Linked DNA regions of Homo sapiens. The protein of the gene in region 4 interacts with the protein of the main gene of each other region in a pairwise test. Each region holds a gene or a part of one and is shown on either strand. Other genes may lie near its edges. The genes, in order: ABCA1, S100A9, SDHAF1 and SDHB.

The links.
Region 1: the proteins of SDHB (region 4) and ABCA1 interact in a two-hybrid assay, tested with the Homo sapiens proteins (one study listed by BioGRID).
Region 2: the proteins of SDHB (region 4) and S100A9 interact in a two-hybrid assay, tested with the Homo sapiens proteins (one study listed by IntAct).
Region 3: the proteins of SDHB (region 4) and SDHAF1 interact in binary tests that used the Homo sapiens proteins (3 or more experiments, as listed by UniProt).

Annotation. Positions count from the first base shown.
Region 1 is NC_000009.12:104,917,597-104,925,357, forward strand, and holds part of ABCA1 (phospholipid-transporting ATPase ABCA1), read right to left. Parts: intron 4,947-7,761; exon of another isoform or gene 4,516-4,946; intron 2,241-4,515; exon of another isoform or gene 2,190-2,240; intron 1,142-2,189; exon of another isoform or gene 105-1,141; intron 1-104. UniProt on the Homo sapiens protein: Catalyzes the translocation of specific phospholipids from the cytoplasmic to the extracellular/lumenal leaflet of membrane coupled to the hydrolysis of ATP.
Region 2 is NC_000001.11:153,353,457-153,361,068, forward strand, and holds S100A9 (protein S100-A9), read left to right. Parts: upstream 1-4,397; 5' UTR 4,398-4,425; intron 4,426-4,812; 5' UTR 4,813-4,827; coding exon 4,828-4,977; intron 4,978-7,187; coding exon 7,188-7,382; 3' UTR 7,383-7,567; downstream 7,568-7,612. UniProt on the Homo sapiens protein: S100A9 is a calcium- and zinc-binding protein which plays a prominent role in the regulation of inflammatory processes and immune response.
Region 3 is NC_000019.10:35,989,844-35,997,057, forward strand, and holds SDHAF1 (succinate dehydrogenase assembly factor 1, mitochondrial), read left to right. Parts: upstream 1-5,344; 5' UTR 5,345-5,431; coding exon 5,432-5,779; 3' UTR 5,780-6,469; downstream 6,470-7,214.
Region 4 is NC_000001.11:17,043,714-17,051,474, forward strand, and holds part of SDHB (succinate dehydrogenase [ubiquinone] iron-sulfur subunit, mitochondrial isoform 1 precursor), read right to left. Parts: intron 1,176-7,761; coding exon 1,048-1,175; intron 1-1,047. UniProt on the Homo sapiens protein: Iron-sulfur protein (IP) subunit of the succinate dehydrogenase complex (mitochondrial respiratory chain complex II), responsible for transferring electrons from succinate to ubiquinone (coenzyme Q).

The DNA.
Region 1 (7,761 bases), on a different chromosome or scaffold from region 4:
TACAAAAATTAGCCGGGTGTGGTGGCATGCACCTGTAATCCCAGCTACTAGGGAGGCTGAGGCAGGAGAATCGCTTGAACCCAGGAGGAAGAGGTTGCAGTGAGCCGAGGTGGTGCCACTGCACTCCAGCCTGGGCAACAGAGCAAGACTCGTCTCAAAAAAAAAAAGGAGTAAGCTTTTGTTTAGTCTTCTTTTTGACACCTCTTTAATGCTTGCTAATTCCCTTTTCAACAAAGTAAGAGAAGTCTCATTGTCAGCTGGGGCCTTTGGGAACCAATAGTTTATCTTATACATAGACTGTGAGAAAAATAATTTGTCTTCATCCTAATTATTTTTAAAATTACCTTTCATTTATGATAACTCATATTGGTTTTCCAATTACAGGTCAAATATAAAGTTATTTTAAAATATATTGATGATTACAAAAATTTGAGTCAACTTGAGTGGGCTGAAATGCTACCTATCTCAGAGTTCCAGTGAAAATTAAATGAGATCATATATAAGAAGAACTAGCCCATGCTGTGTTCCATCACCCACGGTCTGGTTGATGGGTAAAATTTCAGTAGGTGAGGAATATGAGCAGAAGATCAAGTGTGAACCAAGGCAAATACATGAGATGGACATGAGATTCCAGAACAATGAGGAGCCAAACAATGCCAGGAAGGGGTTCTTAAAGTAGAAGATGAAAACCTGTAGAGAGAGACTCATTTAACAGGTACCAAACCATACTATATGTTAATCAGTCTGGTGAGAAAACCAGCTATAGTTCCTTCGAGCATGTGTCTTATAATCCAGGACAAAACTATCAAAGTGGGTCACAGTCTTATTTCAAAGAGCCTTGAATGCCAAGCAGAAAGAGATCATTAATGGTGGCAGATTCTTAAAAGTCTTTTGACCTCTGTCCAGCACCTAGTACTTTCCACAGTACATGGTGTTTAACAAACATTTGCTGAACAAATAAATTTGTTTAATAGCACTATAGGTGTATTAGTGCATTTAATTTTCAAATATAAATATGTATTGTTGTTGTTAATATCATATCTTCTTCTTCCTTCTCTCTCACAGTACCAGACAACAGCCTAACCCCAACTAAGGTAAACTCTGCCACCAAACATGCCTGGGAATGGAGAAGGGTCTGCAGGTCAGTGTAAGCTCATCAGTCTGGGCCTTCACTTTCTCCCTGCCTTTCCAAGGAAAGCTGCTGCTTGCATCAGTGTTGCCTTTATGTCAAAGTGTATCACCTAAATACCAGATCCAACAGATTTCAAGCCACCACCCTCCAAAGACTTGCTTCTTCAAGAAAACAAGCGTGGTTTGACTCTTGTGAAAAACAATTACTCCCAACCTGGCATCCTACAAGAATTTTGCAAAGCAAGGGTGAACAGGGATATGACAACCAAACATCTTCCTAGCAGCTCCTTCCCCCTCCCTGCTCCTGGCCAGAAACCTCTTCTTCCTTTTACTCCTTCTTCTTTCCACTTCTAATTTGTTATGATCTCTCAAACAACAAATTTGGTACAGTGCTTTAGAAAGCTTTGTGTCTTACCGACCTACCCCCAGTGAGGGTCTTCTGAGATACTTCAAACTATCCTCATGAGGTATAGTCCAATTCTCCTCCTAGGATGGGTACTAGCATGCTATTCTTGAAGGATGAATGAGCCTGAAGAGTTGGTTATGGTTTCCTTTCATCACCTATTGGCTTAACAGGAGTCCATTATAAGAAGTAAAACTTAGGCCGGGCACTGTGGCTCACATCTGTAATCCCAGCACTCTGGGAAGCCAAGGTGGGCAGATCACAAGGTCAGGAGTTAAAGACCAGCCTAGCCACCATAGTAAAACCCCGTCTCTATTAAAAAAATACAAAAATTAGCCGGACATGGTGGCATACGCCTGTAGTCCCAGCTACTCAGGAGGTTGAGGCAGGAGAACTGCTTGAATCTGGGAGGCGGAAGTTGCAGTGAGCCGAGATTGCGCCACTGCACTCCAGCCTGGGCAACATAACGAGACTCCATCTCAAAAAAAAAAGCAAAACCTACACCCAAAATGATGTCCGAGATGGAGAGTCCAATTTTATTTTAGAGAGATTTTCCAAATGGTGAGTCAGAAGCAAGAACAGTATCTCACTAAATCATGTTTACTCAACTGAAACTTATTGAATTAAACCAACTCCTCCTTCCTTTGCATTTCAGATGAGAACCCCTTCTGGTTCTATGATTCAAATCTTCATTCACTCAAAGCAGGTAAATAGGAAATTTCAACAGCTTCCTCTCCTCCCTCTCATTCCTTTCTTCTGTCATCGATCTGATCAGGAATGCTCTGAGGCATTCCCTGGTTATTTTTTCTTTACCTCTCAAAATCCACATGGTATGTTACACTAATGCCCAGCATGTTCCTCAGATCTCTAGATGGCTCTAATTAAAGGACCACCCCTTCTTCTGAATACAGACCTGGGGTTAGAGGACATAAGAGCTTGAAGGGCTCTTTAAAAGTCAAGTAGTATCATTTTACAGACCAACAACCTAAAAAACAGAAAAGTAAAATGACTTGTCCAAGGTCACATGGCTTAATGGATTTGTGGGCATTCATGAACACCCTGTAATTACACATAAAATTTGGATTATATGAGCCCATGTGTATTTTTTCTGAAGAGAAAATCCGTATCTTTCTTCAAAGAAGTCAACAATCTCTTCCCCAAAATATAGTAACCACTGACAATTATATGCATATTTGAAAAAAAGTTTAACTAAAATTTAATGTTCCAAGTCTGAATAGTAATATGAATTGGTGATCTAGAATAAGAGTGGAACCTAATTTAATAACTGTCATTGTTATCATCTTTTTTTCTTTTCATGTCTGGGATATCAATGCAAGTAACATGGGATAAAGACAATTTGATGTGGAAGTAAACTATAAAGCAAGATTTTTGTTTTGTTTTGTTTTGTTTTTTTGAGATGGAGTCTCGCTCTGTGCAGTGGCACCATCTCGGCTCACTGCAATCTCTGCCTCCTGGGTTCAAGCGATTCTTCTGCCTAAGCCTCCTGAGTAGCTGGGATTACAGGCTTGCACCACCACGCCCAGCTAATTTTTGTATTTTTAGTAGAGACGGGGTTTCACCATGCTGGTCAGGCTGGTCTCGAACTCCTGACCTCATGATCCGCCCACCTTGGCCTCCCAAAGTGCTGGAATTATAGGCAGAAGCCATCGCGCCCGGCCTAAAGCAAGCTTTTAAAATCACTGAAAACACTCGTATGAATAAATTTCACTATAGGCCAAGCATTATATTATACGGTTCACATTATACACAAACACAAATACCTATTTTACAGATGATGAAACTGAGGCAAAGAGTGATCAGCAACTTGCCTAATGTCAGATATCCATTAGTAATAACCAGAATTCCAATCTACATTAATTTGACTCTGATATCCATGTTCTTTTTCACCAATATTTGCATCTATACTCCAAGATGTCCTAATACTAATATTCTATTTACTTATTTAGAAGAACTAAATCAACTCTCTAAGGTAGCTTCAAGGAAGTCTTTCATAAATGGTTCAACTACTAAAAAGTTCTTCCTGGGAAATATCATAAACTAAATACCAGCTATCACAAAATATCTGGACTTTAAGACTAACCAGATAAAATGTTTTGACTTCCAAATGCTTCTTGGAAGTTGGATTTGGCAGAGAAAACACCGGGGAATTTTAAACAAACACCCCCCAAGAAAAGACTTTATAGAAGAATAGATCCAATGCATATGAAGTTACTGTTTTTTAAAAAAGTGTTTAAATCTCTAAATTACTTAGTGAGTCATGTCACTCTTATTAACAAAAATAAATTAATATACAACTCAAAGTACTTGAATATGGAATGCCACAGACTAGAGCATTTTCTTAAATCACAGCTGCCTCAGAAACGGAAATGAAACTGAGCGAAACTGAAATGTTTGTTCTACAAAAAGTAACCTGGCCTAAATAACTTAAGTATGCACTAAAATTTCTCAGTCTAACATAAACCTAGCCTTAACTACAGTTGTTTCTCATATAACTCTATTTCTAATGCTTTTCTGTGATTACCCTGTTATCTTAAGTAGTCTTTTAGAAGACAGGAAGCAAACATGAGCTTCCCATTCTCCTTGTTGGACTTATTCAAGTCAGCATTTATTAAATTTTTTCCATATTAAGTGGGATGAATTAAGGCCAGGGGAGAATGAATCAAAGACCTTCCTCTAGAGAAGCATACACTCAAGAGGAAGACAAATAAATGTTAACTGTAATTAAAAAACAGAATTAAATACATGATACAAAGAGTGCTGTAATCCAAGTCTAATGGAAGTAAAGAGAAGGGGATCTTACTTTCAACTTAGTGATGGGAAGGAGTGGATCCAGAAGAGCTTCATGAGGAGGGAAGCATTTAAATCGGGTCTTAAAGGAGGTTTGCAAAAGCTAAAGGGTTTTGTACCAACTTTGTTTTCAACATGGGAAAGACAGGATTTCAAACTTTATTTTGTTTTAGGAACCAAATCCAGTGCTCCTCCATTGTTGGAATAAATGCTCTTTGCCTGAATGCTATTTGTGGTCTTCGTAGAATGGAGAGTAACTGAAGGCCCCACCGGAAATCAATTTTATGTAAGCTTTTCATTCTCTGGCCTCAAGTATTTCTAAAATGTACCTTTCTATGCAGGCTACTTATTCAGGCAACTATTTTCAGGTGAAGATACTCAAATGAAAATAGAGAATCCCTTTTGGCCTTTTGCTAATATTTCATTTGTCAAAACTTTGATAGTCTGACAAAGTCTTTACCATGAGATTGGTAAACTCACGGAAGCCAAACTGTCTGGGATGCGACTTCAGCTCCACTACTTACGAACTCCATAATAATGTACCTAGCCTGCCTATACCTCAGTTTCCCATCTATAAAGACAATAAAAGCACCTATTTCACTCATGAGAATGAACTGAGTTATTACACGGAAAACTTAAAAACATATCCAACATACCATAAATCAACAGTAAATGTAACTATTTTTACCAAGAGGTGTCTTCAAAGAGTTTATTTCTAATTCATTACACCAATTAATAAGAAAGGCACTTTCTCATCCTATTTCACTTTTACAAGGCAGACATTTTTTTTCAAGACGGAGTCTCACTCTGTCGCCCAGGTTGGAGTAAAGTGGCACGATCTCGACTCAGTGCAACCTCCGCCTCCCAGGTTCAAGCAATTCTTCTACTTCAGCCTCCCAATCCCAGTAGCTGGGATTACAAGCACCCACCACCACGCCCAGCTAATTTTTGTATTGTTAGTAGAGACGGGGTTTCACCATATTTGCCAGGCTGGTCTTGAACTCCTGACCTCAAGTGATCCTCCTGCTTTGGCCTCCCAAAGTGCTGGGAATACAACAATGAGCCAGTGCACCCAGCCAACAAGGCAGACTTTGAAACTGTGTTTATCTTCCAAAAATACGTATATCTTAAGAAAAAACTAAATTTGATTTCTAAACAGTAACAGCAGTAACAGAGAAATAGCTTATTTCAAAAGGTCCACAACTTCATCAAGGACAGGACAAGCAAGAATCATATTGTATTATAACAAATTTTTACAATTCACCAAAGTTAGGTTTTACAACTAAACTAACAGTTCACTTCTCTTTTTCCTTTGTTTCTTAGGCCCTTACAGCCTAATACTCTATCATTCCATTTTCTATAGATCACATAGGAAAACATTTTGAGATCACACAGCTATTCGCAAACATCTGACTGAAGCAATAGTATAGTTTTCATTATGAACCAAGTAAAAAATTGAGTTGAGTAAATTTTATTCTATTCTTTCCAGGATGTTGCAATCCCTACGCAACCAAGGTTTCAAGTTAAAGAGAATTTGGCTGACCCACTCACAGCAACAAGGAAAATATGATACAGGCTGTAGATTCTGATAAGGATTATAGCAGATGAATGTAGAGAATGTGGTGATCATCCTTGAAAAGCTCCCTGGTTGCAGCAGCTGAAATGTTAGTGCTGGAGTTAAAGAACTCTGGCTGGGTTCAAGTCTTAGCTCTGCCTCTTGCAAGGTATATAGCCAGAGAAAAATTAGCTTCTCATTTACTTAATCTTGTAAACTAGGGACAATAAATGGTTTTGTTGTGAAAATTCAATTAGCATTTGATGACCTGCACAGTGGCTTATGCCTGTAATCCCAGCACTTTGGGAGGCTGATGTGGGAGGATCACTTGAGCCCAGGAGTTCAAGACCAGTCTGAGCAAGATAGTGAGACCTTGTCTTTACAAAAAATTGTAAAAATTTAGCCAGGAGCAGTGGTGCGTGCCTGTGGCCCCAGCTCCTTAAGAGGCTGATGTATGAGGATCACGTGAGCGCAGGAGGCTGAGGTTGCAGTGAGCCTTGTCTGTGCAGCTGCACTCCACCCTGTGCAACAGAGCAAGACCCTATCTCAAAATAAATACAATGAATAAACACGTGAAAAACATTTCAAACAGTACTTGCCACACAGTGCTATATAAGTGTCTATTCAACACTGCAATAACTTTGGCCATTCATGGTTGTATCCACATGCAGATACGAAGATGGTTGCATTTTTTGGAGTAGGCCTTCTCTCAGCATAAACAAAACAAGTGTTCAGAATGATCTTTTAACATTTGATGCTAGAGTAAATGACCATAACAACTACTATAATGGTATTATTTATTTAATATCTGGATACTTAAAAAAATGTATTTGAGGCCAGGTGTGGTGGCTCATGCCTGTAATCCCAGCACTTTGGGAGGCTGAGGCTGGCAGATCACTTGAGGTCAGGAGCTTGAGACCAGCCTGGCCAACATGGTGAAACCCTGTCCCTACTAAAAACACAAAAACTAGCCGGGTGTGGTGGCACGCACCTGTAATCCCAGCTACTCAGGAGGTTGAGGCAGGAGAATCACCTGAACCTGAGAGGCGGAAGTTGCAGTGAGCCAAGATCATTCTACTGCGCTCCAGCCTAGGCAAAAGAGCAAGACTCCATCTCAGAAAAAAAAAAAAAAGAAAAAGTATTTGGTTTTAAAAGTATTTTAGAAATGCAAAAACCACATGCATTTTGATATTTTCTAGACATCTAGATATCTTCATAATTAGAAGAGTCTATCTAAGGTAATGTTCACTTATTCTAGCAGCTAAAAATGAAAACAGTGAAGACCTTAATTTGTAGCCACTACATATATAGCTTAAGTATCCCGGCTTACGGGAGAGAAGATCCCTTTAAAAAAAAAATTTAAATGGAAAAATATCCCAACCAACTCCTCTCCAAAAAGGTAAGTACTACAGAAGATAATAAAAAGCTAAGTCACTGAACTTCTTCAGTTTCATTCATTTTTTTATGTTTACAATGGGACTTCCTTGAGCAGAAGGAACCAATCCTTGAAAACAATCAATTCCTGATCACTCTTTTCCAATCCTGCACTAATGCACTGTCTCACACAAACCGAAAATATGTTCTAAGTCAAAATGTGTCCAGGGGTCGGGCGCGGTGCCTCACGCCTGTAATCCCAGCACTTTGGGAGGCCGAGGCGGGTGGATCAAGAGGTCAGGAAATCGAGACCATCCTGGCCAACATGGTGAAACTCTGTCTCTACTGAAAATGCAAAAACTAGCCAGGCATGGTGGCGTGCGCCTATAGTCCCAGCTACTCAGGAGGCTGAGGCAGGAGAATCTCTTGAACCCAGGAGGTGGAGGTTGCAGTGAGCCATATCGTGCCACTGCACTCCAGCCTGGGAAAC
Region 2 (7,612 bases), about 140 Mb from region 4:
GCCAGGGGTGGTCAAAGCTTGATGTGGACTGAGCCCAAACGTGGTAGAACAATGGTCTGAAGCTACCCGTGGATAGCTTCTGTAAGTCATCCTAATGCACTAGAGTCTAGAATGAGCACTGGGGAAATGGGGGATGTTAGGGCGCTTGTGGTTAGGAGACCCGTACCCAGAGATCTCCAAGGAAGAGCACTTGGGACTCCCAGCAAGGAGGAAGACAGGGAGTGGAGGAATAGGCAGCAGGCTGTGCGCAGCCTGAGTGGGGCTGGGCCTCAGGCATCAGAGTCCCTGTGAGGAGAGGGACCTGACTTCACCTGCAGGTGGAGCAAGTAAGCCAGGAGACAGTGTCCAGGGGCCATGAGGCTAGTAGTAGTCATGAAGCCCACCAAGAGTCCATCAAAACTTGGAATCTGTGCTAGAAATGACCTAAGGGTCAGCTGTCCCAATCTCCTCATGTAATGGATAAGAAAATGGAGGCCCGAACATGGAAATCACTTCTAAAGACCACCAGCAAGTCTGAGAAAGCTAAGGACTAAAACCAGCTCAGTCCCTCAGTCCGGGTCCCACTGTGTGCCTGCTGTAACACCCCCATTACAACACAGGAGGGGTAAAGCTCCCTGAAAGACCACAGTGGGAGCTGCAGAGAAGGGAAAGACAGACCCGCAGTGGGTCCCAGGCATCTGGGAAAGAGCACAGTGATTTGATGGTAGCTGCAGGAACCTCTGCCTGCTTGTTTGTTTACTTGCTTGGTTGTTTGTTTGTTTGAAATGGAGTCTCACCCTGCCACCCAGGCCAGAGTGCAATGGCGCGATCTTGGCTCACTGCAACCTCTGCCTCCCAGGTTCAAGCGGTTCTCCTACCTCAGCCTCCTGAGTAGCTGGGATTACAGGTGCGCACCACCACACCCGGCTAATTTTTTGTATCTTTAGTAAAGATGGAGGTTTCACCATGTTGGCCATGCTAGTCTCGAACTCCTGACCTTGTGATCCACCCGCCTCGTGCTCCCAAAGTGCTGGGATTACAGGCGTGAGCCACCGTGCCCGGCCACTTATTTGTTTTTTAACCCAAAAAGCCACACCCTTTTCTCCCAGTGAAAACCTCGAGTCATTGTACAGAGCCAGGAAAATTGGCCCACCCACTTCATGCCCTAGCAGAAGGCTCCGACTTTCCCTGGAAAATCAGTACCCAGAGGGGAAGACCCCCATCCCACCATCCCTCAGTCCAACCTCTGGCCTCGGCTGGCAGTGAGGAGGCAGGTGGGTGTCGGCCACCTACTGATCATGCCAGGAATTGTCTGCTCCGGTCAGAACCAGAATGGCTCAGCCCTGGCCTCACCTGCGCCTGGGCTAGCCTGGAACCTGGGGGCCTGCAGTGGCCTTCTAAGATGGGGGCCCACTGTCAGCATCAGATCCCCCAAGTGCAGATTCCCGTCTGTTTTGAAACCCTGACCAGCTGCTCATTCCCACCCACTGCTGAGCCTTCTCTCCCCCAACTCCCTATTTTACTTTCATTCTGAATCAGCACTAAATGACCACAGTCAGTGGCTCTGCAGAAAGTCACAGAACAGAGGGTGACAGGCCAGTGTTTATGTCACATTCACTCATTTCATCATTGATTCATGCACTCCTGAATTTATTCAATCAACAAGCGTTCATCCAGTGCCTCTGAGCCAGCCCTTGCCTGGTGCTAAGACTTTGGAGGGTAGCAGGCAGCATCCCTGCCTAGAGGAGCCACAGTGGTGTGGAGGAATCAGAAAGTCCACCTGAAAGTTGAGAGCTCCATGACAAAGCAGAGATGCCTGCCGCACACCATCACTCAGGGTTTGAGTCACACACACCCTGCTTCATTGTCATGCTTTTTTTGTTTTTATTTTAAATTAATGGACAAATTGTATTAAACAGGAATTTTCATATAAAGCTTCAGATGTCCTGGGCCCTCAGGAGGTCCAAGAACATCTGGTCTACTTTCCCACGTGGCAGCCCTGGCCTGACACTGGCTGTCCCTTCAAGGTAGGAACGTTCTCATTCCCCACAGTTGCCACCACTGTCCAGTGTCCCCAACCCTGAGGCCCCATATCAGTGGCCACAAGTTGCCCTACTGCTGCCGTTGATGTTCTCATGCCCCACCAGCTTCACCTTGGGTCTGGTTCCCGCAAGGGTGAGTTGGAGATCCTTGGTCCTGAGTGAGAAGTGCTTTGTCAGAGGCAGCAGAGGGCGCCATGGGAGCACACAGGAAGGGCGCCTGGGGCTGTGCAGGGACTGCAGAACAGGCTGCACTGGCACACAGGGTTGGCTGCTGGCTGCTGGCTGCTGGCTGCTGGCTGGGTTTCCTCTATTAGCTTAAACAATGGAAGGTGGACTTGGATAGGAAATCTACCTCATGTATTCCTGAGCTGTGTCTGCACCGTTCATTCATTCGTAGGCGACTCATGTATTCAAGCACTCATTTATTTATTAGATGCTTGCTGTGTGCTTAGCACTGTGCCAAGCCCTGTCCTTAGCTACCAAGAGTTTAAAACGTAATTTGGAAGACAGGATATAAGATTATGTCTCCCCTTTGTATTGCGACTCACTCATCAAGTTCTCCCAGCATCTAGCATTCATATCTGGCACTCAGTAGGTGCTCAACAAATATTTGTTGCATAAATGAATGAAAAGATTATTAGTAATAATACCTTTTATTTACTGAGCTCTTCCCAACTTTCCATGTATTGTCGCAATCCTCAAGGTAAGTCCTGATATTATCCTATTTTATTGATAAGAAAAGTAAGGCACAGAGAAGTTAAGTAAACTGCCTAAGGTCACACAGACAGTCTGAAGTCTTAACCACTACTCCAGGTGCATCTCAGCAGTGTGAGGCAGGCCATGCTTAGGGCCAATGCTTAGCACACACAGAGATTGCCTCAGGCTTTCAGAGGACAAAGCAGTCAGGAGGGGCTGGGGCAATAAAGGAAGGCTTCATGGAGACAGAACAAAATAACCAGTGCAGGTAGAAGAAGAGAACCATCTTTCCTGATAGAGAGAGGGGGCAGCAAGCAAGAGGGAGTCCCAGGGTGGATCATCCATACTGGCTTCCAGGGGTGACGGGAAAGGATGCCAGCAAGGACTTCAGCAAGGATCAATCAGCAAATCCGAGGGTGTCTCTCTTGCCAAGCCCCGGGCTGTGTGCATAGGAGAAGGAGAACATGAATGAGAACCTACCTTTGAGGATCTACAGCCAATTGTTGGACAGAGGCAAAATATGTATATAATTTTACTCCAGGAAAGCAAGTGTTGAGAGCCAGAAGTGGTATGAGAATCATAGTCAGGAAGACAGAAACTGTTTCCAAATGGGAAGCACAGAGCAGTCTCCTTGGAAGAGAGTGCATTAGAACTGAGCCGTGGGGGCGGGCAGGATATCACTGTGGAGTAGGGGAAGGGCACTCCTGGGGTGGCAAGGTGGGAGGTGGGCCCTGTGTTCCCACAGTGGGCAGGGAGGTAGTGAAAGGGAAGCTGGCCGGACAGGCAGGGCCATTCCAAGAGGGCTTTGTGCGCAGGGCTAAGCCAAGCTTTCTCCATAGGCAATGGGGAGCAACTGGAGGTTCGTAGCAGGAGAAGGACACATCTTGCCCACCAGGAGGCTAAGTAAAAACAGTTGTCTCCCAAGTTATAAGTTCCTGGAACCCTTGCTGGGAGCAGGATTTAGAAAAATGATGCTGAGAGATGCTAGAAACATATTCGCCCTGAGGCTCTCTCACTCAGACTGCAAGAGGAAGGTATCATCAGAATTGCCCTTAACCAGGAACCAGAATAGCTGGGTCCCCTTCCTGCCAAGTCAGCAACCAGCTATGTGACCTTGCTCAGGTCCATCTCCGGGTGTCAGTTTCTTCATCTACAATGCAAGAGGGTTGCCCACCTCTGAGAACCCTTCTAACCCCAAATCTCACCCTATGAATCTAAGAACACCAACCCCTCGCCATCCTAAGTATCACAGAGCCAGGCAAGCATGGGTGAGAGCTCAGACCATCCTTGTTGGACTAAAAGGAAGGGGCAGACTGCCCATGGGGGGCAGCCGAGAGGGTCAGGCCCCCATAGGTCCTCAGCCTGCTTCAACCTCAAAGGGGATGGGGGGCTGAGTGGTGCCAGAGGAGCAGCAGGCTCGCTCGGGGAGAGTAGGGCCTTAGGATAGAAGGGAAATGAACTAAACAACCAGCTTCCTCCCAAACCAGTTTCAGGCCAGGGCTGGGAATTTCACAAAAAAGCAGAAGGCGCTCTGTGAACATTTCCTGCCCCGCCCCAGCCCCCTTCCTGGCAGCATTACCACACTGCTCACCTGTGAAGCAATCTTCCGGAGACAGGGCCAAAGGGCCAAGTGCCCCAGTCAGGAGCTGCCTATAAATGCCGAGCCTGCACAGCTCTGGCAAACACTCTGTGTGGCTCCTCGGCTTTGGTAAGTGAGCTGCCAGCTTCCCCAGGCAGAAGCCTGCCTGCCGATTCCTTCTTTCCTTCCCTGACCCAACTTCCTTCCAAATCCTCCTCCTAGAAGCCCTCCTTGGTTGGCCCTGCCTACTTTAAAGCTTCTTTCACATTTTCTTAGGTCATGTTCCCCTGGGGCCTCCTGCCCTCAAATGCTTTGCTTTTTGGCACTCTGTAGATATTCTAAAAAATCATTTTGTACATGTGTGTGACAGGCCATCTCCCAGTTAAGTTGCAGCCTGTGCTTTCTTTTTATTTTGCACTTCCCCCACTATTTCTGTGAGTGCTTAGTAGGAAGTGTCAAAGAAGCTTGACAGCATTTTCTTCTAAGTGTCCCAACTCTTGGTTTTCCATTACACAGACAGAGTGCAAGACGATGACTTGCAAAATGTCGCAGCTGGAACGCAACATAGAGACCATCATCAACACCTTCCACCAATACTCTGTGAAGCTGGGGCACCCAGACACCCTGAACCAGGGGGAATTCAAAGAGCTGGTGCGAAAAGATCTGCAAAATTTTCTCAAGGTAGGGCTGGACTCTGGCAGGTCTGACCCAGCCTCACCGCAGTTTGGGTTGACAAGGGAGGATGGGAGTATGGGCTACAGCAATCAAGGGGAAGATTTGAGCTCCTGGAGCCCAGCCCCAAGACGCAGCGAGTGTCCTGTTATACAGGGCAGGTGCTCACAGTTACACAGGACGACAGGGTCAAGAAATTGCTCAATTGAACACCTGCTATTTGTCGGGCCCTGTTCTGGGCAGAGGGATGTAGTGGTAAATGGGGAGCCCACTATTCCAGTGGAGGGAGACACACAGTAAAGTTGTTGGCCAATAAAGAGCACAGATAAAGCCAAATGCCAATAAGTGCCTGGAAGAAAATGAGATAGAGTGCGCTGTGGGCAATGGGGCTGGGTGGGGTGGAGGTGACCAGTTAGGGTACATGAGAAGGGCCTCTTTGAGGAGGTAACATTTGAGCTGAGCCCCGAATGTTGGGGAGGGAAGCCCCTGAGGATGACACTTGGCACAAAGCTGAGGAGACCCTAAGCCTCAGGCGGGAACTTGGGGTGGAAGACTTGGGGGCTTTTCTAATCCTAAGGGTCTGCGGTGGAAAATGAATGCATAAAGAGCACATGGAGAGCACCTGCACAGCACTCAGGGAACTGGGAGGTTTTTCCCCCGCTCCAAAAATGATTAGGCAGTTCTAAGAAAAAGGCTGAGCACTTCCAACAGCCTTTTTGTTTTCTTTTCAAATTTGGGGAAAGTCGGGAAACAGAGGCCTGCATTAAGAAGGGTGGAACACATGGGTCTCAGTCTCAGTTCCAGTCCCGGAGCCAGACATCCTGGGGTAGGTCCCCAGCCCTCCCAGTGCCCCTCCCTCCGCCTTGGTAAGGTGGAGAATTGCAGCCTTCAGAGTTAGGGGCCCTGACAGCTCTCCATAGGTGGAGGCCTCAGGCAGGCAGGATGCTGGGTGGGGTAGGCAAGAAAGGGCCCAGCAGAGAGGCCGCATGGCAAAACTATCCTCCATGTGACCCCCTATGCCCGCTTCACCCCCCACCTGACATCCCCCACCAGAAGCAAAGCGATGCTGTGGGAAAGGAAGCAGAGCCTCATGGATGGGCTGCACAGGAGAGTGCTCGCATTGGCTGGGTACCCCACAGGTTCTGGGAGGGGACTTAGCGAGGTGACTCAGCCAGAGGGTGGCAGAGCTGGAACCAACCAGTGCTCTCTTGGACCCCGCCTGGGTCTGGGTCTTCCACCTCCCCTGATGTCTCTCCTTTTTTTTTTTTTTTTTTTTTTTTTGAGACAGAGTTTCGCTCTTATTGCCCAGGCTGGAGTGCAACGGCACAATCTCGGCTCACCACAACCTCCACCTCCTGGGTTCAAGCGATTCTCCTGCTTCAGCCTCCAGAATAGCTGGGATTACAGGCATGCACCACCATGCCTGGCTAATTTTGTTATTTTTTGTAGAGACAAGGTTTCTCCATGTTGGTCAGGCTGGTCTCGAACTCTTGACCTTAGGTGATCTGCCTGCCTCGGCCTCCCAAAGTGCTGGGATTACAAGCATGAGCCACCCTGTCCGACCATCTCCCCTTTTATACTTTATCACACCCTTGAGGTCAGCGGAGCACATACTCTGCTCTCTGACCCTCCATCTCCCCTGCCCACACCTAGTTTTTCTAGGTGTTTCCCCGTTGTATTGGTTGAAATAAGTTTCACTAATTGGTAACCTCCAGAGGGAAGGGAAGGGAGGGCAGGGGAAGGAGTGAAGTGCAGAGGGGTAGCAGAGTGGAACTGGCCTCTAAGTCAGATCTGAATTTGCATGCCCTCAATAGTCAAGCTGTGAAAACTAATGACCCTCTCTAGGACTGGTTTCAAGTCTTCCTCCAGGAAGATACCATTCCTAGCTGTTAAAGTTGTTATAAGGACCAAATGAGGTGACATTTCCAGGCTTACTCATGCCATGACCAGGGCAAGACCCTGGAACTCAGCTTCCTCTTCTATAAATAGAGAATCAGCACCCAAGTCACAGGGTCATGGAGGGAATAAACTGGAGAGCGTTTGGTATGTGCTCAGTGTCTGCTCCATTGTGCGCACTCAGCCTATGGTCATTTTTAATTTTTAAATCCAGCCCCAGGGTGAGGCTTCCCTTGTACATTTGCCAGCTGGTCATTTACTGTGCTCCCAGTCCCCACCTCTGGCCACACCCAGCTCTCACAGCCTTCTCTCCCCACCCGCAGAAGGAGAATAAGAATGAAAAGGTCATAGAACACATCATGGAGGACCTGGACACAAATGCAGACAAGCAGCTGAGCTTCGAGGAGTTCATCATGCTGATGGCGAGGCTAACCTGGGCCTCCCACGAGAAGATGCACGAGGGTGACGAGGGCCCTGGCCACCACCATAAGCCAGGCCTCGGGGAGGGCACCCCCTAAGACCACAGTGGCCAAGATCACAGTGGCCACGGCCACGGCCACAGTCATGGTGGCCACGGCCACAGCCACTAATCAGGAGGCCAGGCCACCCTGCCTCTACCCAACCAGGGCCCCGGGGCCTGTTATGTCAAACTGTCTTGGCTGTGGGGCTAGGGGCTGGGGCCAAATAAAGTCTCTTCCTCCAAGTCAGTGCTCTGTGTGCTTCTTCCACCTCTTCTCCAACCCTGCCT
Region 3 (7,214 bases), on a different chromosome or scaffold from region 4:
CGTGTCCTGGTCCAAGGGCCTGATCACTATCCACTGCCCACTGACCCAGCCCAACCATGGCTTTCATGTCAGCTGCCCACATGACTTGCCCAGATCTTCAAAGCTCCCAAACTGTGTGGCCTCCTGCATGTGCCGGATGGCCCCTTTAACCACTGTGTGGCCCACATCAACAAGCCCTTCCTTAGTATATGCCTGCAGGATGCGTGTCATCCCAGTGGCCAGCACCGTGGTCTCTGTGACACTCTCACAGGCCATACTGCAGCAGCCAGGAGCCTGGGAACCCTGTGATGCCCTGGAGGGGCCCCAAGCATTGCCATAAGTGCTCTGGCTTGGTCTGGGGTGCAGGCAGGGCAGACTATGGGTTGGCTGGAAGAGCCCCTTCCCCTGGTGGGAGTCCAGGAAGAATTCCTAGCATAGGTGGAATTGGTGGAGGAGAATGTGTGGGAAGAGGATCCAAGGGAAAGGGAACTGCAGCTACAAAGGTGTGGAGGTGGGGAAATACCAATGGGAAGCCAGGCTGACTAGGGGCAGAGGCGATGAGATTGGAAAGAGGAATTTGAGGCTGGGCGCGATGGTTCCTGCCTGTAATCCCAGCACTTTGGGAGGCTGAGGTGGGTGGATCACCTGAGGTCAGGAGTTCAAAACCAGCCTGGCCAACATAGTAAAACAGTGTCTCTACTAAAAATACAAAAATTAGCCGGGTGTGGTGGCACACACCTGTAGTCCCAGCTACTTGAGAGGCTGAGGGTGGAGAATTGCTTGAACCTGGAGGTGGAGGTTGCAGTGAATGGAGATCACACCACTGCACTCGAGCCTGGGAGACAGAGGGAGACTCCATCTCAAAAAAAAAAAGAAGAAGAAGAAAGGAAGAAGGAAGAAGAAGGAAGAAGGGAAAAGAAGGAAGAAGAAGGAAGAAGGAAAAAGAAGGAAGAAGAAGAAGACGGAGGAGGAGAAGGACTAGGAGAAGGAGGAGGAAGGAGGAAGGAGGAAGAAGGAGGAAGAAGGAGGAAGAAGGAGGAAGAAGGAGGAAGAAGGAGGAAGAAGAAGGAAGAAGAAGAAAAGAAATTTGAGCCCTAGGCATTTATCTTTGCCAACTGCCTGCAGCACAGACCTGCCCACCCCAAGGCCATTACAGCATCTGTGCACAGACCTATGATTTGGGGTGTGTCCTGCCTGCCAACCCCGCTCACTGTTCCTCCCGATGCTATGAGAGCTATGAACGTGGCCTCACCATTGATGGCACAGACTGTGTGTCCCAGGACCACTGTGGCTGCTTCCACAATGAATGCTACCTTCTGGTGAGAGGGATCTCCAGGCCTGGAAGGTGAGGACAAGTCTCCCAAACCTCATCATAAGATGTTCCCTGAATCACCAGTATATCAGTCAGCATTTTCAGTTGTAAATGACAGAAAATGATGCCAGCTGTCTTAAATACAGACGAGAATTTGTCTGCTTTTACTTATCTGTAAAGATGAGGCCTTCAGGTCTGGCTGGTTCAAGGACTCAAATGATGTTGCTAAGAACTTAGTTTCTTTCCATCTTTCATCCTCGCCTTTTCCTTTTTCTGCGTTAGCTTCTATAGTAATTAGGCTCCAGGTCCATATGGTAGAACAAAAGCTCAAAATTACAGTGGCTTAAGCTTTTTGTTTGTTTTTAGAGAGAGGGTCTCACTCTGTCACCCAGGCTGGAATGCAGTGGCGTGATCATAGCTCACTACAGCCTTGACCTCCTGGACTCAAGCAATCCCGACACCTCAGCCTCCCAAGTAGCTAGGACTACAGTTATGTGCCACCATGCCTGGCCAATTTTTTTTTTTTTTTTTTTTTTTTTTTTTTTTGTAGAGACAAGGTCTTGTTGTGTTGTCCCGGCTGGTCCTGAACTCCTGGGTGCAAGCAATCCTCCCAACCTCAGCCTCCCAATGTGCTAGGATTACAGGCGTGAGCAATACGCTCAGCCTACAGTGGCTTAAACTTGATAGAAGCTTAATTATCTCTCACAGGCAGTCCAAGTATAACCAGTTTGCTTCCTCCAACACAGGCTCCATCTGTCACGTGGCTCTGCCTCCCCTGTGGTATTGCCCTCATCTCTTCCTCACCGCAGCTACATTCCTGCAAGTTGGAAGGAGAAAAGAGGGCACAAAGAGGCCAGGCCTCCTCCCTTTAAGGACAAAACCCAGAAATTGCACACATCACATCCATTCACTTCCCAGTGGCCAAACTTTATGGAAGGGCCCCATCTGGCTGCAAAGGGGGCTGGAAGATGTATCTTTAGCTAAGTGGCCATGTGTGCAGCTAAAGATTCTAATTTGGCCAAGTGCGGTGGCTCATGCCTGTAATTCCAGCACTCTGGGAAGCCGAGGTGGGAGGATCACTTGAGCCTAGGAATTTGAGAACAACCTGGGCAACATGGTGAAACCTTGTTTTTATAAGAAATACAAAAATTAGCCAGGCATGGTGGTGAGCGCCTATAGTTCTAGGCCACTGAGGTGGGAAGATCACTTGATCCTGGGAATTTGAGGCTTCAGTGAGTCACAAGCATGCCCCTGCACTCCAGCCTGGGCAACAGAGCAAGACCCTATCTCAAAAAAAAAAAAAAAAAAGGAAAAGACAAAGAAAAAAGGCCAGGCATGGTGGCTCACACCTGTAATCCCAGTACTTTGGGAGGCCGAAGCAGGCGGATCACTTGAGGTCAGGAGTTCTAGACTAGCCTGGCCAATATGGCGAAAACTCGTCTCTACTAAAAATACAAAAATTAGCCGGATGTGGTGGCGCATCCCTGTAGTCCCAGCTACTCAGAAGGCCGAGGCAGGAGAATCGCTTGAACCCGGGAGGCAGAGGTTGCAGTGAATGGAGATCACGCCACTGCACTCCAGCCTGGGTGACAGAGCGAGATTCCATATCAAAAAAAAAAATGCTAATTCTAGGAAAGAAATGGAGAATGGGTATCTGAGACTGCCACAGCCTCATTTTCAAACTACCCCTCTGCCTGCGGGAAGTGATCTCCCACTGCTCCAGGTTGATGATGTACAGTCTAGCAGTCCCAGTGGGGAGACAGCACTTCTTTCTTCACAGTTTCAACAGAAGTCCCGGGTCTGATTCTCATTGTCCCAGTGGAGGTCATTTGCCCATCCCTAAACAATTACAGGGGTCAGGGGATGGGATATTCTGATTTGTCTCTAAGTAGCCAGGCCTGGGCATGTAACAGAGCTGTAGCCAGAGCCAGAGGGCAGGGATATTACCCAGGAAATCCCCTAGAATAAGAGTGGGCCAGTTCCCCAAAGACAAACTGAGAGACTGTAACCAGAAAACCATTGACAGGCCCTGGGCAGGAGGCAATAGTATTCCCTTTGAGGTTTTGCAGCTCCTTGAGTCCACTGGAAAGTAAAGAAAGTCCCCCTAGGCTGATTGACATAGTTGTCTTGGAGATTAAGGGTCATTTGACAGGAAAAAGATAGATGTTTAAATTCCAGAGTACAAGCCAGCATGGTGGCTCATCCCTATTATCCCAGCTACTTGGGAGGATGAGGCCGGAGTTCAAGACCAATCTGGGCCACATAGCAAGACCCTGTCTCTAAAAACAAAACAAAAAATAAATATTTAAAATTCCAGAGTGAAGCCTGGGCAACACAGCGAGACTCTGTCTCTACAAAAAACAATAAAAGAAGAATTAGCCGGGTGTGGTGGGATGTTCACGTAATCCTAACCACTGGACATGTTGAGGCGAGAGGATTGCTTGATCCCAGGAGATCAAGGCTGTAGTTTCACCAATATGGTGAAACCCCGCCTCTACTAAAAATACAAAAATTAGCCCAGTGTGCTGGCACATACCTGTAATTCCAGCTACTGGGGAGGCTGAGGTAGGGAGAATCACTTGAACCTAGAGGCAGAAGTTTCACCATGTGGATCAGGCTGGTGTCGATCTCCCGACCTCAGGTGGTCCGCCCGCCTCGGCCTCCAAAAGTGCTGGAATTACAGGTGTGAGCCACCGTTCTAGGACATGTATTTTTGATAGATACATACACCTGCCAGGCAGGATTCACAGTGGTTTGTGATTCTCCCCTGACTCCAAGACTCCAAGCCTAATCCCCGCCCCTGACCAGCTTCTCCTCTCTGAAGGGGAATGGACCCCCCAGCTGGTTGCCGGCCCAAGTGTGCAGAGCCGCGGTTGCGCGCTGGGTGGAGGGGTCCCCCAAGCTCCGGTGCTGGTGGGGCCCGAGGATGCTGTGTCCTTGCGGGCCTCCCTAGCGCTACGAGGACACCTCCAGGCGGCCCGCGGGGACAACAACGGCATTGCGGCCTACCACCTAAAGCTCCTGGGAGGACAACGGGGTTGCAGTCTAGTCGACTGTTCAGGGTGTCCCGGACTCCGGGCTTTAACAGTCGGTAAGGACCCAAACACCGCTGTCCACTGCCCCGACTCCCACCCGCAGAGGGCGCGACCAACCCAGCTCCTAGAGCCACACGCTGCCTCTGGGGGCTTGGCGCCCACACTCTCTCTGCTTGTCTTCCCCTGGCCCGAGAAGCCTGTCCAACCGGCCGAGAGCCATTTCCCTACGGGGTCTCGTCCCTCTGCACGTGCCCAGGGCTGGGACCCCAGACACAGACCTGCCCCGGACGAGGGAACGCACGGAGCTTCCCAAGATGGTTTGAATCAGTAACTGACGGCAAAAGCACGCTTGTGCCCGGCGTCTCTCCCAGTGCCCCGTGCCCTTGGGACCCAAAGTCCGAACCGGTAGCCGGGCGCGGTGGCTCACGCCTGGAATCCCAACACTTTGGGAGGCTGAGAATCGTTTGAGCCCAGGAGTTCGAGCCATTCTGGGCAACATAGGGAGACCCATCTCTGCAAATAATAATAATAATAAATAAATAAATAAATAAATAAATAAATAAATAAATAGCGGGCGCGGTTGCGCGCGTCTGTGGTTCCAGCTACTAGGGGAGTTGAGGTGGGAGGATCGCTTGGGCCCAGGAGTTCGAGGCTGCAGTGAGCCAAGATCGCGCCACTGCACTCCAGCCTGGGCGACAGCGAGACCCCGTCACACACAAAAAAACCCCTAGCTTCCTCTTCTCCCAGAATGCAGGAGTTAGGTGAGGACCCTCTGTTCCCTCCAACCCAAGACCTAGGAGTCCGAACACATAACGCCCTCCAGGCGGTGCCAGGATCCCCAGAACTGCTGTCCCCTCAAGAACACACGTCCCCTACGTGGGAGGCCGCGACCAGCGACTCCGCCCACTTCTCCCAGCCGGCTGTTACGTAACTGCAACGACAGCCAGTCAGACGCGGCAGCGCCGGATGGCGGGAGGCGGGAGTTGGAGGCCAAGGGAAGCGCTGGGCGGAAGTGGCTGTGGCTTTGCCCTTTGGCCTTTGCTGGCTGTGTGGCGGCTCCGCGGTTCGCAGGTCGTTCGCTGAGCGTCTCTGCTTAGCCGCGGTCATGAGCCGGCACAGCCGGCTGCAGAGGCAGGTTCTGAGCCTGTACCGCGATCTGCTGCGCGCCGGGCGTGGGAAGCCGGGCGCCGAGGCGCGAGTGCGGGCAGAGTTCCGGCAGCATGCGGGCCTGCCGCGGTCCGACGTGCTGCGCATCGAGTACCTGTACCGCCGCGGGCGGCGCCAGCTGCAGCTGCTACGCTCGGGCCACGCCACCGCCATGGGCGCCTTCGTACGCCCGCGGGCCCCGACCGGGGAGCCTGGCGGCGTGGGTTGCCAGCCTGACGACGGCGACAGTCCAAGGAACCCCCACGACAGCACGGGGGCACCGGAGACCCGCCCCGACGGACGGTGACAGGCGAAGAGCCGAACTCGCTCGATGGCGTGGTGGAGCCAGGAGGCTCGCCTGACTGCATGGGGGGACTGGGGAACCCGCCTAAGGTGAGAGGTCTTAAGAGACTAGCTTGACGAATTGGGGATGTCAGAGACTCCTCCTTGGCGACGCAGGGGGCCTAGAGAGCCCCGTGATGGACGGCAAGGGAGGCCCGCCTTTTCCGATGCTTGGAGACAGGTCGGTGCTCCTCCCCCATGAGGGCTTGGGGCGGCCTGGGACGCTGGCGGGCTGGACAGTGTCAAGCCAAGAGCTACTTGCCCGAAGGTACGGGGAGCCAGGACGACCCCCGGTGGACAGGGAGAGCCTGAGACGCCCTTCTCTTGACCCCTGAGAACATACCCACTTCTGGCTCCTCAAGGAGTCTCCCCTCTCCTGTATTTAACTCTGAGAAGTGCAGACTTTTTGCTGAGAACGTTTTGGGAAGGTGCCCTGATGAGCGGTGAGAAGCCCGGAATCCCCTTCTGGAAAACTTTCCCCCATTAATTGTGACAAGCCAGGACCATGAGGAAGGGGTAGGGGTCTATCACCCTGGTTGATCAACTGAAGACCCCCAAAGGCCCCTACTTGATGGTTTTGAGGGGCAACATTGACTCATTTGCCCCTTCCCTCTCGGAATGTTGGACAAAGGGAATAAAATTGGGGATATGTCTACTTCCCTGTTGGTGGTCTTAAAGCTTTTATATATTTCAGGATTTTTGAAACACCCCCAGCCCCCCTGCCACCACACACACACGCACACAGACACCTGGAAGGGACCATCTGGGAGGTGATAGGTGTGGGGATCTGACTCCTTCCGGAGCCCTGTAGACTGGCACATTGATTGAAGCGGCATAGTTTTCTCCCCTGGGCAGATCTGTGGAGGGGGCTCATCCTGGCTTAACCCCCAAAGATACCCCAGTTGGCTCCCTAATGGAGGGCAAGTGATTTAACATCTTTGTGTGGAAGAGGAAATGGTGGAGCTGAGAACTGGCTCGGAGCCCCTGAGGCAGTAGTGAGGGTCTCAGACCTGGAAATTTCTCAAACCTGGCTGAAGGGTCCAGCCTCAGCTACAGTGAACGACAAGGCCCTGGGGCAGGAGAGGGGAGATGAACCCCATAGATCACAGATATACTCCCTCCGGTGTCCCCATATGGGCCTGCCCTAGACATTCTGTGGAGGGATGCATTTTGCATCGCTGAGCTATATTTGCACCCATATCAGTTAAATAAGTGGAAATGAGTTCTTGTGGATGTAGCTGTGGGTAGGAGGACCACAGGTAAGGAGCATAGACCTCAGACCAAAGGGAGGATGGACGGAAGAGAAACAGTCACTGCCCTAATCCCGGTGGGGGAGCCACATTCCCAAATGGTTATAAAGTGGAATTGCAGTTTGAAGAATTAATTGCCGGGATAGGCTT
Region 4 (7,761 bases):
GAAGAACTCAACCTGCTGCTGCTGCTTTTGACGATGGAAGAAGAGGCCAAGAGCCAAGGAGTGCGGCAGCCTCTGGAAGCTTGGAACAGCCCTCAGCTTACAGTCAGCAGAATGACAGAGACCTCGGGCTCACAACCACAAGGAACTGCATTCCACCAATAGCGCAAATGAGCAAAAAATATTTTCCTCTAGGCTCCAGAAAGGAATGCAGCCTGCTGACACCTTGATTTTAGTCTGATGAGACTATACCAGTCTTTTGACCTACAGAACTATAAGATAATACATTTAGGTTGTTTTAAGTCACTAAGTTTGTGGTAATTTGCTCTGACAGAAATAGAAAACTAACACGCCAGTCCAATTTTTAACATTTTAACCACATCCCTACCTTGTCCATTCAAGGCAAGTTTCTGGCGGTTCTGTTATTATTATAGAAAACACAGGTCCAGATGTATAAGATATAATCAATACATTCAGCATTAAAAAAATGGTAATATATTAAATGACTTTAAATACTGTGCATAAAGTTAATTATACCAGTATTTCTAGAAATTTGTCATACTTTCATTTGGGAATTATTTTGGTATTATTCTTCTGAATCAGGTAACAACCTCATTTTTTTTTTTTTTTTGGAGACAGAGTCTCACTCTGTTGCCCAGGCTGGAGTGCAATGGCATGATCTCAGCTCACTGCAACCTCTGCCTCCTGGGTTCAAGCAATTTTTGTGCCCCAGCCTCCTGAGTGGCTGGGATTACAGGCATGAGCCACTATACCCAGCTAATTTCTGTATTTTTAGTAGAGAGGGGAGTTTCACCATGTTGGCCACATTGGTCTTGAACTCCCAACCTCAGATGATCTGCCCGCCTGAGCCTCCCAAAGTGCTGGGATTATAGGCGTGAGCCACCGTGCCCGGCCCAAGCTCATTCTTGTTTTAAAAACAGAGCCATCGGATGATCTCAGATTTTTAAGCCTTCCAAGGATGTGAAAAGCATGTCCCTAAATCAAATCAAGAACTCTCCTTCAATAGCTGGCTTTCACAGAGATACTCACTTATTAAGGTCAACTTCATAAGTCTGCATATGAGGTTTGTCTCCAGCCTTGTCTGGGTCCCATCGATAGATGGCAAATTTCTTGATACGGGGAGCTGTGGCTGCAGCTGTCTGGGCTCCTCGGGAGGCCTGAAATTTTTTAAAGTTCACAAAAAGGAAAAAAAAATTAGAAATACAAGATAATTCCATTTTGCTGGCACAACAGATGTAACGCTGGATATAAACTCACACATTACTGACACATAATCTTCTTAGAAAAGGCAGGCATTCAATATCCAACAAGTATTAAGCACCTATCATATGCTAATATATCAGACATGGTATTAGGGGCTAGTGACACAGCACTTAATACACAAAAACCTTCATCTTCACAGAACTTACTTTGTAGTGAACAAGAGTTAAATTAAACATTCACGATGAATATAAAGAGCGATACTGTTGGGAAAGTACAGGGAGCTCTGGATGAATACAGCAGAGACTTCAATGAGTGAAGAGTCAGAGAAGGCTTCCTCACATGTCATCTAAGTGGAGGCTTGACAAACCAGAATTAAGGGGAAGGAGTGTGGGGTGTGGTCTGAGGGTGGTGGCTCATGCCTGCAGTCTCAGCACTTTGGGAGGCAGAAGTGAGAGAATTGCTTGAGCCCATGAGTTTGAGAGCAGTCTGGGAAACATGGCAAAACCCCATCTCTACAAAAAATAAAAAAATTAGCTGGGTGTCGTAGTGTGCGTCTCAGGAGGCAGAAGTGGGAGGACTGCTTGGGCCCGAGAGGTTGAGGCTGCAGTGAGCCAAGATCATGCCACTGCACTCTAGCCTGGGCAACAGAGTGAGACTCTTTTTCAAAAATACAAAATAAAAAAGAAAAAAAGAAAGAAAAGACTATACTCCAGGACTGCTAATTTTTAAAATAAACTGATATAGAAAAGTAAAAACTCGGAAGGTTAATTGACTAATTACAAAAAGATGCAGTGGTGTTTATTACTGAGGCAGGAGAACAGGGTTTAGAGACAGGGAGTCTTCACTACAGCCTCTGATTCGTCTCGGGCCAAGTCTTCATTTGCATAGGGTGTAACTAATAGGAAACCCGTACAGGGTACTTTAATCCCAGAAGACTGTGCAGCTGGGGCTCTTGAACCACTTGCTCAATCCCACTCCTACTCTATGGAGTGTACTTTCATTTCAATAAATCTATGCTTTCGTCTTCTGTTGCTTTGCTTGTGTGTTTTGTCCAATTTTTTGTTCAACATGCTAAAAACCTTGACGACTTGTGGTCAAGACCGTCTACCAGTAACATTATTTCTTGGTAAAGTGTCCCGTATTAACTGAAGCTGAAAATACAAACATCAGCTAACAGTAGAAAAGAAGAAAATATATGAAGAAAATGAAAGTTAAGATGAAAGCTATGTTTTACCTTATCACCAAGCTGGCTAAAATCATCAACAAAAGGAAAGCCATTTCTACAAATGTTTTTCACCGGGAACCCCATTTTGTAAACTGACATGAACATCTAATGCCACCTTGTGGTATTTGGGAGGAAGTGAGAGGAAAGATTCCTGAAGGTATCAACTCCAGTGGACTTTGCTTGCTTAATGTCCCATTTTTTTTTTGGTCTTTTTTCTGTGAGATTTAATAAGGTATAATTCATTATAATAAAATTCACTAATTTTAAGGGTATAATGAGTTTTGACAAAGCAATGTAATCCTACCACAATTACAACAGAGTATTTCCATCCAAAAAGGTCTTTTGTGCCCTTGATGGCAAACATAAGTCCCCTTTTCCTACCCTTAGCAACTGATCAGCTATCATCACGAGTCTGCCTTTTACAGAATTCATATAAATGGCATCATACGGTACGTAGTCTCATGTCTAGCTTCTTTCACTCAACATAATGCTTCTGAGATTCATATGTTACTGCATATAACCATAGTTAAATGCTTTTTTAAAAAATTAAACTATTTATTTATTTATTTATCTTTGAGACTGAGTTTTGCTCTTGTTGCCCAGGCTGGAGTGCAATGGTGCAATCTTGGCTCACCACAACCTCCGCCTCCCCGGTTCAAGCAATTCTCCTGCCTCAGTCTCCCGAGTAGCTGGGATTACAGGCATGTGCTACCAGGCCCGGCTAATTTTGTATTTTTAGTAGAGATGTGGTTTGTCTATGTTGGTCAGGGTAGTCTCAAACTCCCAACCTCAGGTGATCTGCCTGCCTTGGCCTCCCAAACTGCTAGGATTACAGGCGTGAGCCACCGTGCCTGGCCAACCTTTTTATTTTTTAATAATTATAGATTCATATGCATTTATAGAAAATAATACTGAGGCCAGGTGCAGTGGCTCACACCTGTATCCCAGTACTTTGGGAGGCCAAGACAGACGAATCACTTGAGGTCAGGAGTTCAAGACCAGCCTGGCCAACATGGTGAAACTCCGTCTCTACTAAAGATACAAAAATTAGCCCGGTGTGGTGGCACATGTCTGTAATCCCAGCTACTCGGGAGGCAGAGGCAGGAGAATCGCTTGACCCTGGGAGACGGAGATTGCAGTGAGCCAAGATTGCGCCACTGCACTCCAGCCTGGGTGACAGAGTGAGACGCTGTTTCAAAGAAACAAAACAAAACAAAAAGAAGAAAATAATACTGAGACTCCACATACTCTTCTCACCTGTAATCCCAGCACTTTGGGAGGCTGAGGTTGGGAAATCACCTGAGATCAGGGATTCAAGACCAGCCCAGCCAACATGGTGAAACCCCGTCCCTACTAAAAATACAAAAAAACGAATTAGCAGGGTGTGGTGGCGTGTGCCTGTAATCCCAGCTACTAGGGAGGCTGAGGCAGGAGAATGGCTTGAACTTGGGAGGTAAAGGTTGCAGTGAGCTAAGACTGTGCCACTGTATACCACCCTGGGTGACAAAGTGAAACTCAAGCTAAAAAAAAAAAAAAAAGAGAGAGAGTTTTGCTCTGTCACTGATTGTGCAGTGGCATGATCACAGCTCACTGCAGCCTCAACCTTCTGGACTCAAGCGATCCTCCCATCTCAGCTTCCCCAGTAGCTAGGACTACAGGCATGCGCCACCATGCCCAGTTAGTTTTTTTACATTTATTTTTGTAGAGATAGGGGTCTCACTGTGTTGCCTAGGCTGGTCTTGAACTCCTGGCCCCAAGTGATCCTCTGCCTGGCCCTCCCGAAGAGTTGGGATATAGGCATGAGCCACCATGCCAGGGCCCACATACTCTTTACCCAGTCTCCCCAACAGGAACATCTTGCAAACTGTAGCACACCAGCACAACCAGAATACTGACAGTGCTAGTCAAGATAGGGGACATTCCCATAAGCACAGGATCACTAACATTGCCCTTTTATAGCCCTGTCCACTTCCTCCCACCCTACCTCCCCTGTACTCCGTAAGCCCTAGCAATCACTAATCTGTTCTCTACTTCTCAAATTCGGTCATTTCAAGAATGTTATATCAATATAATCATCTGGTATGTAGCCTTTTGGAATTGGCTTTTTTTATTCAGCCGAATTCTCCGGAGATTCATCCAAGTTGCTGTGTACAGCAATAGCTTTTTTCTTGTTATAGCTGAGTAGCACTCCAAGGTATCATGTACCACAATTTGCTTAACCATGTAACTACTGAGGGACATTGGGGGTGTTCTAATTTTTGGTGACATGAATAAAGCTGAGATGAACATTTGTGGACAAATTTCTGTGTGAACGTTACATCTTCATTTCTCAGGATAAACACCCAGGTGTGTAATTGTTGGGCTGTATGGTAGCTACAAGTTTAGTTTTTTTTAAGCAACTGACAAAACTATTTTCCAGAGTGGGTGGCTGCTGTGCCTGAGGCAGATAGTAGGGTAAGTGGGACAATATGCCTTTTAAAAAATGGGGCTACTTCAAGTTTTTACTTCTAATTTGGACACTTTTATTTTTCATTTATTTTTTAAAATATTTATTTATTTATTTATTTTGAGATGGGGTCTCACTCTTGTCCCCCAGGCTGGAGTACAATGGCGCGATCTCGGCTCACTGCAACCTCCACCTCCCGACTTCAAGTGATTCTTCTGCCTCAGCCTCCTGAGTAGCTGGGACTACAGGTGCCTGCCACCACGCCGAGCTAATTTTTATATTTTTAGTAGAGACGGGGTTTCACCATGTTGGCCAGGCTGGTCTTGAACTCCTGACCTCAGGTGATCCGCCTGCCTTGGCCTCCCAAAGTGCTGGGATTATAGGTACAGGCCACCTTGCCCGGCCTTTATTTTTTATTTTTATAGACACATGGTCTAGCTTTATTGCCCAGGCTGGAGATCATGGCTCACTGCAGCCTTTAACTCCTGGGCTCAGGCGATCATCCTGACTCAGCCTCCCAAGTAGCTGGGACTATAGGTGCACACCATCATGTCCAGCTAATTTTTGTAGAGACAGGGTCTTGCCATGTTGGCTAAGCTGGTATGGAATTTCTGGGCTTAAGCAATCCTCCCATCTCAGCCTCCCAAAGTGTTGGGATTACAGGTGTGAGCCATTGTGTCTGGCCCTAACTTGGACTTTTTTTTTTCTTTTTTGGAGAGTCTCATTCTGTTGCTCAGGCTGGAGTGCAGTGGCGCGATCTTGGATCGCTGCAACCTCCACCCCTCAGGCTCATGCAATTCTCCTGTCTCAGCCACCCGGGTAGCTGGGATTACAGGCATGTGCCATAAAGTCCAGCTAATTTTTGTATTTTTAGTACAGACAAGGTTTTGCCATTTGGCCAGGCTGGGCTCAAACTCCTGGCCTCAAGTGATCCACCTGCCTCAGCGTTCCAAAGTGTTGGGATTACAGGTGTGAGCAACCGCGCCTGGCCCCTAACCGGGCTTTAAACAGAATCTGGGACTGGAGCATAATCCCCTAGTTCTTTTTTTTTTTTTTTTTTTTTTTTTTTTTTGTGAGACAGTCTCACTCTGTCACCCAGGCTGGAGTGGAGTGGCGAGATCTCTCTGCCTCCTGGGTTCAAGCAATTCTCCTGCCTCAGCCTCCCAAGTAGCTGGGATTACAGGCGCGTGTCACACGCCCGGCTAACTTTTTTGTATTTTTAGTAGGGATGGGGTTTCACCGTTTTAGCCAGGATGGTCTTGAACTCCTGATGTCGTGATCCACCTGCCTCAGCCTCCCAAAGTGCTGGATTACATACAGGTGTGAGCCACTGTGCCAGGCATAACCCCCTAGTTCTAAAGCCTGATTTAGTATTGTCAGTGGGCAACAGGCATTAGGCTCTATCAAGCTGGGTATCAGAACCACAAGGCCTGTGGGATGACTGTGGTTACCTGCAATGAGGTTTTCCCTTCAACATTTCTTTATAACATTTAAATATCTGTTTCATATCCACTCTACACGGATAATTGATCACGTATTATCTTTCCAAAAGAGACTAAGTTTGTATTAGAGCTAATTTAAATTTTTAAAAAGTCTTATCATATGAATGATGTGAAATAAGAGCAATGCCAGGATGTACTACACTGAATATCTAAGTCGACATATCCCAACATCAGTTTTGGAGTGCCCCAAAATGTCATCATTTTTTTTTTTTCAGTACAACTAATTTAAATTTGTTTTGTGTCAAAAATGTATTTTATAGGCCAGGCGTGGTGGCTCATGCCTGTAATCCCAGTACTTTGGGAGGCCGAGGCAGGTGGATTACCTGAGGTCAGGAGTTCGAGATCAGCCTGGCCAACACGGTGAAACCCCGTCTCTACTAAAAATACAAAAAAATTAGACAGGCACGATGGCGGGCACCTGTAATCTCAGCTACTTGGGAGGCCGAGGCAGGAGAATTGCTTGAAATCCGGGAGGCGGAGGGTACGGTGAGCCAAGATTCCGCCACTGCACTCCATCCTGGGCAACAACGTGAGCGTGACTCTGTCTCAAAAAAAAAAAAAAATGTATTTCATACAATATTTGGTGGGGCAAAGGGGGTTTACCAGAATGAAAGAAGATTCTGAAATCAAAATCACCAGAGTGGTCATGGTTCTGAAAGTGATAGAGCTTTGCTCATCTTGAGGTCTGTACAAAGAGTTAATTCTCAGGATTATGTTATCTGTGTTCCACCAAAAAATTCGTTGAATACATATATCTAAAAATTTGCCAGATTTCATTCATCGAACCTTTATAATCTGTCACACACGGTGCCAAATAATCTCTAATCTTTATAACATCTCTATGAAAAATGTTTTGTTGTTCCCAGTTAAAAGACGAGGATAGGATCATATAGCAACACAGGTCACTTGATTCAAAAATCCAACCTTTTAGCCATTATAACCAGTGGTGAAAACGCAAACATAAAACGCAACAGTGCAAAAAGATAATTCCATTTCACAATGAGATCCAAGGAACAAAAGAAGTTGTTGCTCTAATCATACAATGAGACTATATGATTTTTTTCCCCTTGTTACCTGCCCAGCAATTTATACTACAAATCCAAAAGGAAAGAGGGCCCCTTGAAAGCATTTTTACGTTAATCTAAAGACTAATGAGTATTCAAGGCAGAAAGTACATTCCTAGGAAATCTTGGATAGTATGAATTTCATAGTTTATAATTTAAGCAAGGTAAGCAACAACTGAACTGAGAAGGGTGAATTCTGAATGGTGCTGAAGGCTGGTTGTTGTTCCTCCAGTAAAGTGTCCTTAGGGTGCAGGCTTGGAGTTGGATGGAGTGGATAAAGATTTGGAGGCCAGAGAAGAAGGT